Linked DNA regions of Homo sapiens: region 2 is linked to region 1. Evidence: fine-mapped expression QTL. A gene starts in region 1. The other region holds a variant in brackets. All regions are shown on one strand. Distances are between the middles of the regions.

Region 1 (5,379 bases):
AGAACAAATAGAAAGAGGTTTCGTTAAAAGAGCAAAGACAATTTATTTTGCAAAGACAACTCATTGGCACTAGTAAAGTTTTGGGGAGCTGGCAAGTTCTGATTGGTAAGTGATAGCAGTGGGTAAAAGTAATCATAGAGTCCGGCAGGTTGTTTCAGAAGCTACTACATAAAACCGTTTTTGGGTTACAGCAGGCAATTTCAGCAGCTAGGCTTGCAAAGAATTACATTCTTGGCGTGCCCTGAGTGTGTTTTCTCCTCCTGGCCTTCCAATTCTGTTTTAGTTGGGTATAACAAGAATGGCTCAATTTATATAATCAACTTTCACACTTGCCAGCCATAGGAAGCCAGGGCATCCTACCCATAAGTGACTCTCTCTCCAAGGGCTGAGCTGTTCTCTTCCTGTGCCGACAAACTGCTCCAGGGAGAGGGGATCTGGCTGATCCAACATGGGTCAAAGTCCCACAGTCCAGATATATGTGTCTCAGAAGGTGGGGGGTTCTCATGGTCCATGGACTTTCCTTCAGATAATGTTGGAATTGCTCCGAGAAGGGCTAGTGATTTTTACCCCTATGTTCACCATGCCTTTTCTGCACACAAGAGTGCTTGTGTCTTTGCTCTCTTCTTGCACTGCTCCTCCCGGCTGACCATCTTCCCATTCTCTGCCGTGCCCCTACCTTAACATTGTTTTCTAAATGAACCTTTTTCATGTTTAAAAACTGTTATAACAGTTAGAAAGAAAATCTGGCCTTCTCTGCCATTATTATGGCCAATTGCATCTACGTAGCAAAATCTGTTTATAAAACAATGATTTTAGAATGATATTCTTTCTACCTTTGCTTCGTTTTTTTCAAATCAAGTTTTGGAGGTAAAATTCAGCAATTTCAGCGGCTGCTGAGAAAAAAATTCAGAGTCAGGACCTGCCAATGAAGAGGGTCCCCAAAAAATACTCAGGTTTTCATGTAAAACGTCTGAAAGCCAGTATCCCAGAAATAAGGATAACAGGAGAGAGCCAGCCTTCAAAAAGAGTGAAGCATGGCTCTGACTTACATTAATCTCAGAATAAAGTGTGCTTTCCCATCCTAGCTGCCTTCTACATCCAAAGGTAAATCCCTTCAGAGGATTTATAGTAGCATCAATAAACATGAAATAAATCTACAAAAGACATGCAAATCGACAGGAGAATTCCAGAGCTAAATGTGAAAAGTTAAGCAATAAACCTCATAGTAGGCATCACTGAAAATTTCCATGATATTGGAAGTGATGCTGGGCAGGCAAGCCCAAATTGGGGCTTAGCTTGGGAGGGTTCTTTGCTTCACCCAGCAAAGGATTCAAGGGTGAGCTGGTGGTGGAAGAAGACAGCTCTATTGAAGAGGCAGTGTTACAGCTCTGTGACTGCTCCTGCAGAGCACGGTTACTCTATCGGCAGGGCGCAGAGAGCAGCAGCTCAGGGCAGTTCTGCAGTCATATTTACATCTACTTTTAATTGCATGCAGATTAAGGGGTGGTTTATGCTGAAATTTCTAGGAAAAGGGTAGTAACTTCTGGGTCATTGGGTCATTGCCATGGAAAGGAGCAGTAATTCCTGCATGTTGCCATGACAAATGTAAACTGACATAGCACACTGGTGGGTGTGTCTGATGGAAAGCTGCTTCCACCCTGACCCTGTTTTAGCTAGTCCTCAATTTGCTCCAGTGTCCAAGCCCCGGCTCTGGAGTCGAGTCCTGCGTCCTACCTCAGAAGTAGTCGAAAACATACACATGAATGTTCACAGCAGCATTATTTCTTTCTTTTTTTTTTTTAAAGAGAGATGGGGGTCTCACTATGTTGGCCAGGTTGGTCTTGAACTCTTGGTCTCAAGCAATCCTCCCTCCTCAGTCTCCCAAACTGCTAGGATTACAGGCATGAGCCACTACACCTAGCCACAGTAGCATTATTATTTCTAATAGCCAAACATCCATCAATAATAGAATGGGTAAATTATATTTGTTCAATGGAACATCACACAGCAATATAAAAGAATAAAGTGCTGCTAAAAGCAACAACATGGATGAATTTTATGAAGTGTTGAATGAAAAGACACAGCCACAAACAGGACACATGGTAGGGTTCCATTTATATAAAGTTTTTAAATAGGCAAAACTAATCTATAATGTTAAAAATTTGGGAGGGGCATAGTGACTAGGAATGAGCATGAGGTTGATTCTGAGGTGCCTGTGTTTTGCTTCTTGATCTAGATTACATAGGTTTGTTCATTCTGCAAAAATGTATTGAGGAATAGACAGATGATTTGTACACTTCTGTGTATGAATGTTATATTGTAAAGTTTCTTGAAGAATACCTGTTTACAAGAGTTAGAGAACATGGAAGCTCTTTCTCTGAGATAAAACATCTAAAAAGACAAAAATTAGCCGGGCGTGGTGGTGGGTGCCTGTAATCCCAGCTACTCGGGAGGCTGAGGCAGGAGAATGTCTTGAACCCGGGAGACAGAGGTTCTAGTGAACCAAGATCACACCACTGCACTCCAGCCTGGATGACAGAGGAAGACTCTGAGACTCCGTCACAAAAAAGAAAAAACAAACAAACAAACAAACAAAAAAGCCCTAAGTCATATCATGCCAGTCTCAGCAGTTTGAAACCCTCCATGGTTCCCATCTCTCAGTAAAAGGCAACGTTCTTATGACATCCTTCAAGGCCCCATGTAGTCTTTTGGTCCCTCTCCATCTCTGTCCTCCTGTCATCCACGTCTCCCACGTGCTGATTGGGTCTGGTAGGGTGACTGGGTGGCAAAGACCTCACAGAGGTGCCTTTCTGCTCAGGTGGCAAACAGGAGAGTCTATCTGGGCCCTGCAGGATGGATCCTTCCTGAGTCACTGAATATATTGGAGGTGCAGACAGCGCCAGAGAAAGGCATTGAGCCTGCCAGATCAGACACCGCCTCTTAGGGTCGACGGAACACCCAGGAGCAAAGACCAGAAATTGTGGGAGAAAGGCCTGGAAGGGGGCCGGGGAGAGGCACAGAGACAGCGAGGTGATGCAGGCTTGGTGGGAGCGGGTATGGTAGGCAATGGGGGACAGAGGGGCAGGGCACAGACAAAGCTTGCTGAAGATATGAAGAGCAATTGTGAGCCGGCGAATCCTTGGAGTAGAGGAGAAAATTGAGGTCTCCTGTTCAGCCCGATGCAGGTGAGATGCTGTTGGAACACGTGACAGAGAAAGGGTGTGTGAGCCCAGGGCTTGTGCACTAAGCGCACAGGAGCGAAGGGGGCGAGAAGAAAAAACGACGCCCAGCAAAGAGCGTCAAGGCCCAACCGCCTGCCCCCAACCGGTCTCTAGCGCCTCGTGACCTTCTGCACTCCGTTGCAGGCGTTTGGCACCAGATGGTCCCACGCGCTCTGTTCGACGGTTGGGGGCCGCGGACGCTGGTTGTCAGCAGCACTGGGTCAGCCGGTGAACGGGTGTGCAGCGTCCTCAGCGCCGCAGCAGTCAGCACCTGTGGGTGCTCTAGCTCTTTCCCTCGGGGTCACCGGAGGCAGAGCCTCCCCTACGCGGAGTAGAGGAGCAGCTCACATGGTGCGGGGGTGGGGATCGGGCTTCCTGGAAGGCTGGAAATGGGAGTTGGGATAAGGGGTTGGCGAGGGCGGGGCGGCACCGTCTACCGGGGTGACCGGTGTGCCCTGGCAGCCAGGGAGTCTGCTGCAGGGCAGGTATTAAGATTCGGAGAGACATAGGACAAAGAACCCTCGGCCTCTTCTTTTCAGGCAGCCGCCACAGAGGACACCAGATCATGCCAACACCCCCACAACTCCTGCCCGCCTGCAGGCAGCTCTGGGCTCAGGACACCGCCTGCAAGAACCTTTATAGCGCAGCTCTCCAAACCTTGGAGGCGAGGACATTCTATGTGCCCGCCCTGGAAAGGCCTGAACCTATAACATCTGGGCTGTGATGGTTTCTGAGGTGGACACCAGGTATTCTAAACTGCCCACATGCTTCACCCCAAAACTTCCCTTTCTAACAGGCAGTGTATTTTCACTTCTTTTAAAATATTTGGTAAAACAGCATTTAAGCCTTAGAAAGTTCCCCATCTCACCCCAGCCAGGGTTTGAACCCATGCTGTCTGATTCCACAGATCATGCATTTAACCACCAGACTTTGGTGTAGCCTCACCGTGTGTGCATAATGGATTACACTTGTTTATAATACTTGGGGTGCTTAGCACCATGTCAGAGCTGTAATGAGTACTTGCACTGTTAGGAGGTCTAACATGGTTCAATTTATAAGTGGACCATTGGCCACACCGGGTCTGGCTCAGTCTCCTGGGAGGATGTAGGCAGGGACCACCAATTATCAGCATATCTCCATGATGAATTTCTCCAGACAGCGTATCACTCTGTCACACAGGCTGGAGTCACAGCTCACTGCAACCTCGAACTCCTGGGCTCAAGAGATCCTCCCACCTCAGCTTCCCAAGTAGCTGAGACTGCAGGCATGCGCCACCACGCCTGATAATTTCTCTTCTAATTGAGCTTTGCAGAAAGCCACACAGCTGTCTGAGAGCTATTTTCTCCCAGGTATAGGGACAGGAAATGGCACCTCAGACTTCTGCAGATTCCACCCTGGCTTAAAAGCCCATGCCCCCAAGGACACCAATCTTTCTTACAATAACATAGACTATCTTTCAGGGTCCTGGCCAAGATGGACAACTTGCCAATATTAACTTTTCCAGGCCACAGGGATGATATATATCTCCATAGATTTAGGTCTTGAGTATTTTCTCCTAGAAATATTTCGCAGCAAGGGTCAGCACTGCAGCCTATGGGCCAACAAATTTAGCCTGTAGCCTACATGTAAGGCCAGTGAGTGAAGGATCCTATTAACAATTTTAAAGAGTTGCAGCAGAATACACAGAAACACAAAGAGTCTGTGTCACAGACAACGTGACCCACAAAGGCTATGCTACTTATTAGGCTGGTGCAAAAGTAATTGTGGTTTTTGCCATTACTTTCAAACCGCAATTACTTTTGTACCAACCTCATACTATCTGGCTTTTTAAGAGAAAATTTGCAACTGTTTTGCAGTTGTCTGTGCATAGATCTTCCACAGCTTTTGCTAATTTATTTCTAAGTATTCTATGGGGTTTGTAAATGCTATTGTAAATGGAATCTTTTAAATTTTAATTTTTGATAGTTCATTGGTAGAATATAGGTAATACATATAATACAGTCCAGTGTCGCTTTAACAATGGGAATACCTTCTGAGAAATGCATCATTAGGTGATTTTCGTCATTGTGCAAACATCATAGACTGTACCTACACAAACCTAGATGGTATAATTGACTATACTCCTAGGCCATATGGTATAGCCTGTAGCTACAAACCT
Region 2 (5,379 bases), 17 kb after region 1:
TTCCTAAGCCTATCTGCTTCTATTCTGGCATCTATTTAATTCTTCCTTTCAGGGAGGCATAGAGTGTTTCTAAAATCTACATATATCATGTAACTTCTTTGCTTATCCTTTCACGATTCCTCATACTTTGTGGATAATGGACAAATGCCCCCTGATGGTATGTCTGTTTGTCCATGATCTGCACTTGCTGAACACAGCAGCCACATCTCCCAGCTTGGGTTTCACTCTCCAACCACATTTGATTACTTGCCTGGTGTCCCACAGGGTCATGATCTCTTTCTTCCTTGACTTTTAATTTAATTTAATTGAATTTAAAGTTCCAGGATACATGTGCAGGTTTGTTACACAGATTAGTCTTCCCTGACTTTTAGCATGCTATTTCTTTGACCCCCAAATAGCCTTTCTCTGCCTGGACACTTCTTCCTTCTTCTTTTTTTTATTATTTTTTATTTTTTCCATCTCTCTCACACCTAGTTTTATGTCCTTCTTACCTACTCCCGTATCGCCACCACTATCTTTCCAGGTGTAATATTTGGTTTATCTATCTGTCTCTCTCTGCTATACTGTAAATTGCTGGGCTGCAAGAGATAAATCTTTGAATTCTATATCACCAAGACCTAGCACTGTTTAATATAATACATTGACTCTTGAACAACACAGGTCTGAACTGCACAGATCCACTTACATGTGGATTTTCTTCCACTGCGGCCTCTCCTGAGACAGCAAGACCAACCCCTCCTTTTCATCCTCCTCCTCCTCCTCAGCCTACTCAACATGAAAATGACAAGGATGAAACCTTTATGATGATCCACTCATCCATTTTCTTTTCTCTAGCTTATTGTAAGTATGCTGTATATAATACATATAACATACAGAATGTGTTAACTGTTCATGTTATCAGTGAGGCCTCCAGTCAACAGTAGGCTACTAGTGGTTAAGTTTTGGGGAAGTCACAAGTCATGCAGACATTTTGGACTGCGTGGGGGAAGCAGCACCCCTTACCCCCACGCATTGTTCAAGGGACAACTGTAATCTGTAAGCAGCTGAAGGAAATGCTTGTACTTTATTTTTCTTTCCACCATCTTAAGATACCTTCATGGGTTGTAAAATACTTTAAAAAGATTGTATTTTCAGCACAGTACAACTCCAAGGTCAGCCAAGTCTGTGTGAAATTATAAATCTTGTGACGATATTTTTGTGGTTAGGACTCGAGATAGACCAGTTATTTTTCCAAATAGAACCTATCCTGCTATTTACCTTAAAAGATAATCATTTGTAATGTGTCAAAGCAACATGATACCAATATCTATGTAATCTATTACATCCTAACAGACTTAAATTTTTTTTAAATTACGGAGCAGTCATGCGTGAGTTCTTTCTTCCTTTTTTCCTCCAGGCCCAAAAGCCTGATTGCCAAGCCAATCATCCATAGGTGAAAGTGTGAATGTTGCTGGACGTGGTGGCTCACACCTGTTATCCCAACTCTTTGGGAGGCCAAGGCGGGAGGACCACTTGAGCCAAGTTTGAGACCAGGCTGGGCAACATGATGAGATCCCCATCTCTCCCCCACAACCCCCTGCAGCCAAAAAAAAAATTGTGAATGTGTGTGAATTACTGGCATACAACTAAATTAAACAAGCAAAAAAGACATTTAAACTCCATGTTCTAGATCCTGGGCCCTGGGCCACAGAAACTTTGCACAGTTAAGCCTGGCTCAACAATCATGGCTTATACAAGTCAGTATTTTCTCCATCATTGAGTTAGAGCAAAAACACATGAGCAGAGGAAACATGGCAGACATAGATAGCAGTGGGTGTCCTGACAGTTCCAAGACAGGAGGAAACCCCCCCAAAGCTTAGGTCTTCCAGGATAACACTGAAACTAGAGTGTAGTGTTGCACGGCTGATACTCACCCATCTCTCTCTTCTCTCCACAGGTGAACATCTTAGGCTAGTGTGTCGACTTCTGACTTGGCTCATCTGAACCCAAGTCCTTGGACACATTCACAAACACCCCAGGGTCTTGGGCTTCCAGTTTGTGCTAGAAGGACAAAGGGCAGGTGAAGCTTGTTTGCCGTAACTAGAAGGAGCAGAAACTGCTCCCAGCAGAACAAGATCAAATCATGGGGAACAGTGGTCACCTGCCATTTCTAGAGGAAGCTTTTGCTTTTGGTCACTGAGGACCCTAAGTCTTACATGAGAAGAAAACAAATAGGGTGATGCTGCATGCTTCTGTCCCCAAAGAATCCCTGTGCAGGTGCCGAGGGTGCCCCAAAGACGAGGCTGTGCTTGCCGTGCCCACCACAGAAGCACATTTGACCTGATCAAAAGCAGGTGGAAAAGGTCCTGAAGCACAGATATTTTCTCAGTGATGTTGTTTTCTCCAAAATGAAAGAGGGAAGGTACCCTGGCTTAGGCCCCTGGTGTTCTGATTGAAGGTGAGAATGGAAGTATCTTCTTCAACATGTTCTCCCATCTGACTGCAACAAGTGTGCTCCAGCCACCAGTGTCCCAGTTGCTCTGAATGATGGTGAGAAGGGTACCCAAACACTTGAATGGTACTGTACCCTCTACTTGCCATCTGAATCCTCACTTGTGGAACCCAGGCACTCTGGCTGTATTCGCGAGTAAGCATAGGTGTGGGACTGTGTCCTGCCATTGCACCATCTTT[A/G]ATCTGGACTTGTGGACCTCAGGCTCTCTGACTATTCATGGACAGAAGTTTCTGCAGGCACAGGTGGGGTGCTGTTTCCTCCCATTGTACACCTGAATTCAGGACTTGTGGACCCCAGGTGTTCTGGCTGTGTTCATGAACAGAAGTGTCCCCCCCAAACAAACCCATATATGGTGCCATCTCCTCCCATTACAGGTATGGTGCCATCTCCTCCCATTGCAGGCATTGCACTGCCTATACTCTGGACTTATGGCCCTCACATGCTCTGATTGTATTCATAAACAGTAGTTTCTTCAGTCACAGATATGGCACCAGCCCCTCCAACAGAAACAGATGTGCTCAAGCTGAGTGGTCCAAAGGCGTTTGACAGAAGTCATGAACAGAAGTATCTTGGGGCACATGTTTCTTCTCTGTTGTGCAGGCTTCTCCAGCAGTAACAGGTTTGCCCAGGCCATATGGGCCCCAAGCGCTCTGACCAGACACAAGAAGAGAAGACTTGCAGTCACAGGTAGTGTGTTGTCCCCTGCTACTGCAACATAGGTGCTTGGAAAGGTGCAACAGGGTGCTCTGCTTGTGGTGGAAACATAAAGGCCTCCAAGCATAGATGTGCTGCTTTCTCCTTCCCTTTGAGGGATGCAGATGTGCTCTGGCCAGCTGCATTCCAGGTGGTCTGTCTGCAAGACAGAAGTGTCCCAAGCACTGGTATGTGCGGGCTCCTCCAACCACAACAGACGTGCTTTGGCCAGATGGTTTCCAGGTGTTATGAACACAAGAAGGAACAGAGGTGCCTTCTGGAACATGTTTCTTCTCAGTGATGTTCTAAGAGGTGTGCTTTGGCAGGACAGGCCCCAGCTGCTCTGACTGTAGGCAGGGAGGAAAGTGTTTCCCAGGAGTTTTTGCTTTCAGTAGTACTGCCCTCTCCAACTGTACCAGAGGTGCTGTAGGCTTGCAGGAACCCCGGTGCTCATGTGTAAGCCTCCCCAACATAAACTAAGGTGCTGCATGCCCCTCTAGGCCCTGTTCTAAAGCTGAGTGCTTCAGATGTGGAGCTGGGTCTGGGGCAGACACACTGGTCCTAGAGCTGTCATTATCCAAAGAAGCCCCAGAGTCCATGAATGGAAATGGGTCGAGAGAGGGGTTAGCAAAAGGTGAACTGTGCCTGATGCTGAGCATCCAGTGATGGCTCCAGAGCTAGAAGTAGTGGCTGTGCAAATGGGAAAAGGACCCGAGGTGCCACCCAAGGCTGAGTGGGTGCTAGCAGAGATATCAAAGATGGATATGGAGGTAACACGTACGCAAAATCTGATGGCATTATGCTCCCATTGGGTGTCTGGGCTGCAGTAAAGGCTCAGTTTAGAGCTTGTATTGAGATTTTACGTTTCTCAAAGGGTAAATGCTATCAAATACATTGGGGGATCCTGCCAGGGGGAGGCTAGAAAGAGGACATGGTAACCATATTGATTTCATCAGAGTTAAAGGCAGACTTGGCTGCCCAGTTGGTCAAGGTCCTAGCTACTAGAAAACAGACAATTGCTGAAGTAGTGATAAGTATGATGGTGCAGACAGGTATCCTAGAAGACTGACTCTTTGCTGCTGCCCTTTAGGAGCTCCAAATGTGACTGAGAGGTGGCTTCTGGGCTAAAGGAAAGGTTCAAAGTGGGGTAGGGCTGTTTACCATAAACATAGGTGGGTTAGTGGGGACTGCCTTTTGCAGGGGGCTGTCCACTCCACACTGCAATGAGCCAGTCAAATGGGAGTTCCAAGACCAGAGGAAACCTAGCCCAGAGCTTGAGTCTTCCAGGCTAACCCTGGGTCCTGGGGGGACCAGGAGATGAGACCCAGGGAATAGTAGTGTCCATGTCGGTCATCTCAAAGGTTCAAAGCAGGCTGGGAGGTCAAGTCTGCAGATGGGCTGACTGGGCAGTGGAAGTGATAAGGTTGGCCAGTTAATGATGGGTTGATATATTCATCTGTTTTCACACTGCTATGAAGAACTATGTGGGGCTGGGTAATTTATAAACAAAAGAGGTTTAATTAACTCACAGTTCCACATGGCTGGGAGGCCACAGGAAACTTACAATCATGGCAGAAGGCAAAGGGGAAGCAAGGCATGTCGTACTTGGTGGCAGGAGAGAGTGCAGAGGAAACTGCCACTTATAAACCGTCAGATCTCATGAGAATTCCCTCACTATCATGAGAACAGCATGGGGGAGACCACCCCTACAATCCAGTCACCTCCCACCAAGTCCCTCCCTCCACACATGGGAATTACAATTCAGATTACAATTCAAAATGAGATTTGGGTGGGGACATAGAGCCAAACCATATCAGTTAGTCAGTGAAGACTGAGGTATCTGTAGAAGTGAGGGAGGAGCACAGTGGTCTGGATGAACCAGTGGGGTGATAGTCAGGGGACTGGCATTCAGTGAGGCTGGGGGAGAAGCTTCCTAAAAGCATTGCCCTTGAAAAGCAGGGCATACCTATCTGATACTGAGGATGTAGAATGCAGTTTGGAGATGCTTCCTAGCTACCTAATCTTCCAAGGCAAACCATGCACTCTTCATCCTGATATTTGTGATGCCTCCCTGGGCTACATGACAGAGGGTGCACTGCAAAGGATGTGAAGGAAAGTCACCACAGGGCAAAGGTGGAAACCCAGGGGCCTTTCCCCAGTGAGACTTTCTGGCTGTTCCTTTGGAACTTCCACCT

The links. PIP is the estimated chance that this variant, and not a neighbour inherited with it, causes the effect.
Region 2: its variant is fine-mapped to the expression of LINC01801 in whole blood (TOPMed, PIP above 0.99).

Annotation. Positions count from the first base shown.
Region 1 is chr19:34,830,918-34,836,296 of GRCh38, reverse strand. LINC01801 (long intergenic non-protein coding RNA 1801) reads left to right here and starts at 3,428. Exons shown (of 6, transcript NR_033982.1): 1 at 3,428-3,572; 2 at 3,761-3,967.
Region 2 is chr19:34,814,048-34,819,426 of GRCh38, reverse strand. LINC01801 (long intergenic non-protein coding RNA 1801) reads left to right here. Exons shown (of 6, transcript NR_033982.1): 5 at 661-840; 6 at 1,937-3,273. Among named protein-coding and RNA genes, the nearest start is that of LINC01801, 16 kb to the left of the region's middle. The variant A/G (reference allele first, on the strand shown) is at 2,671.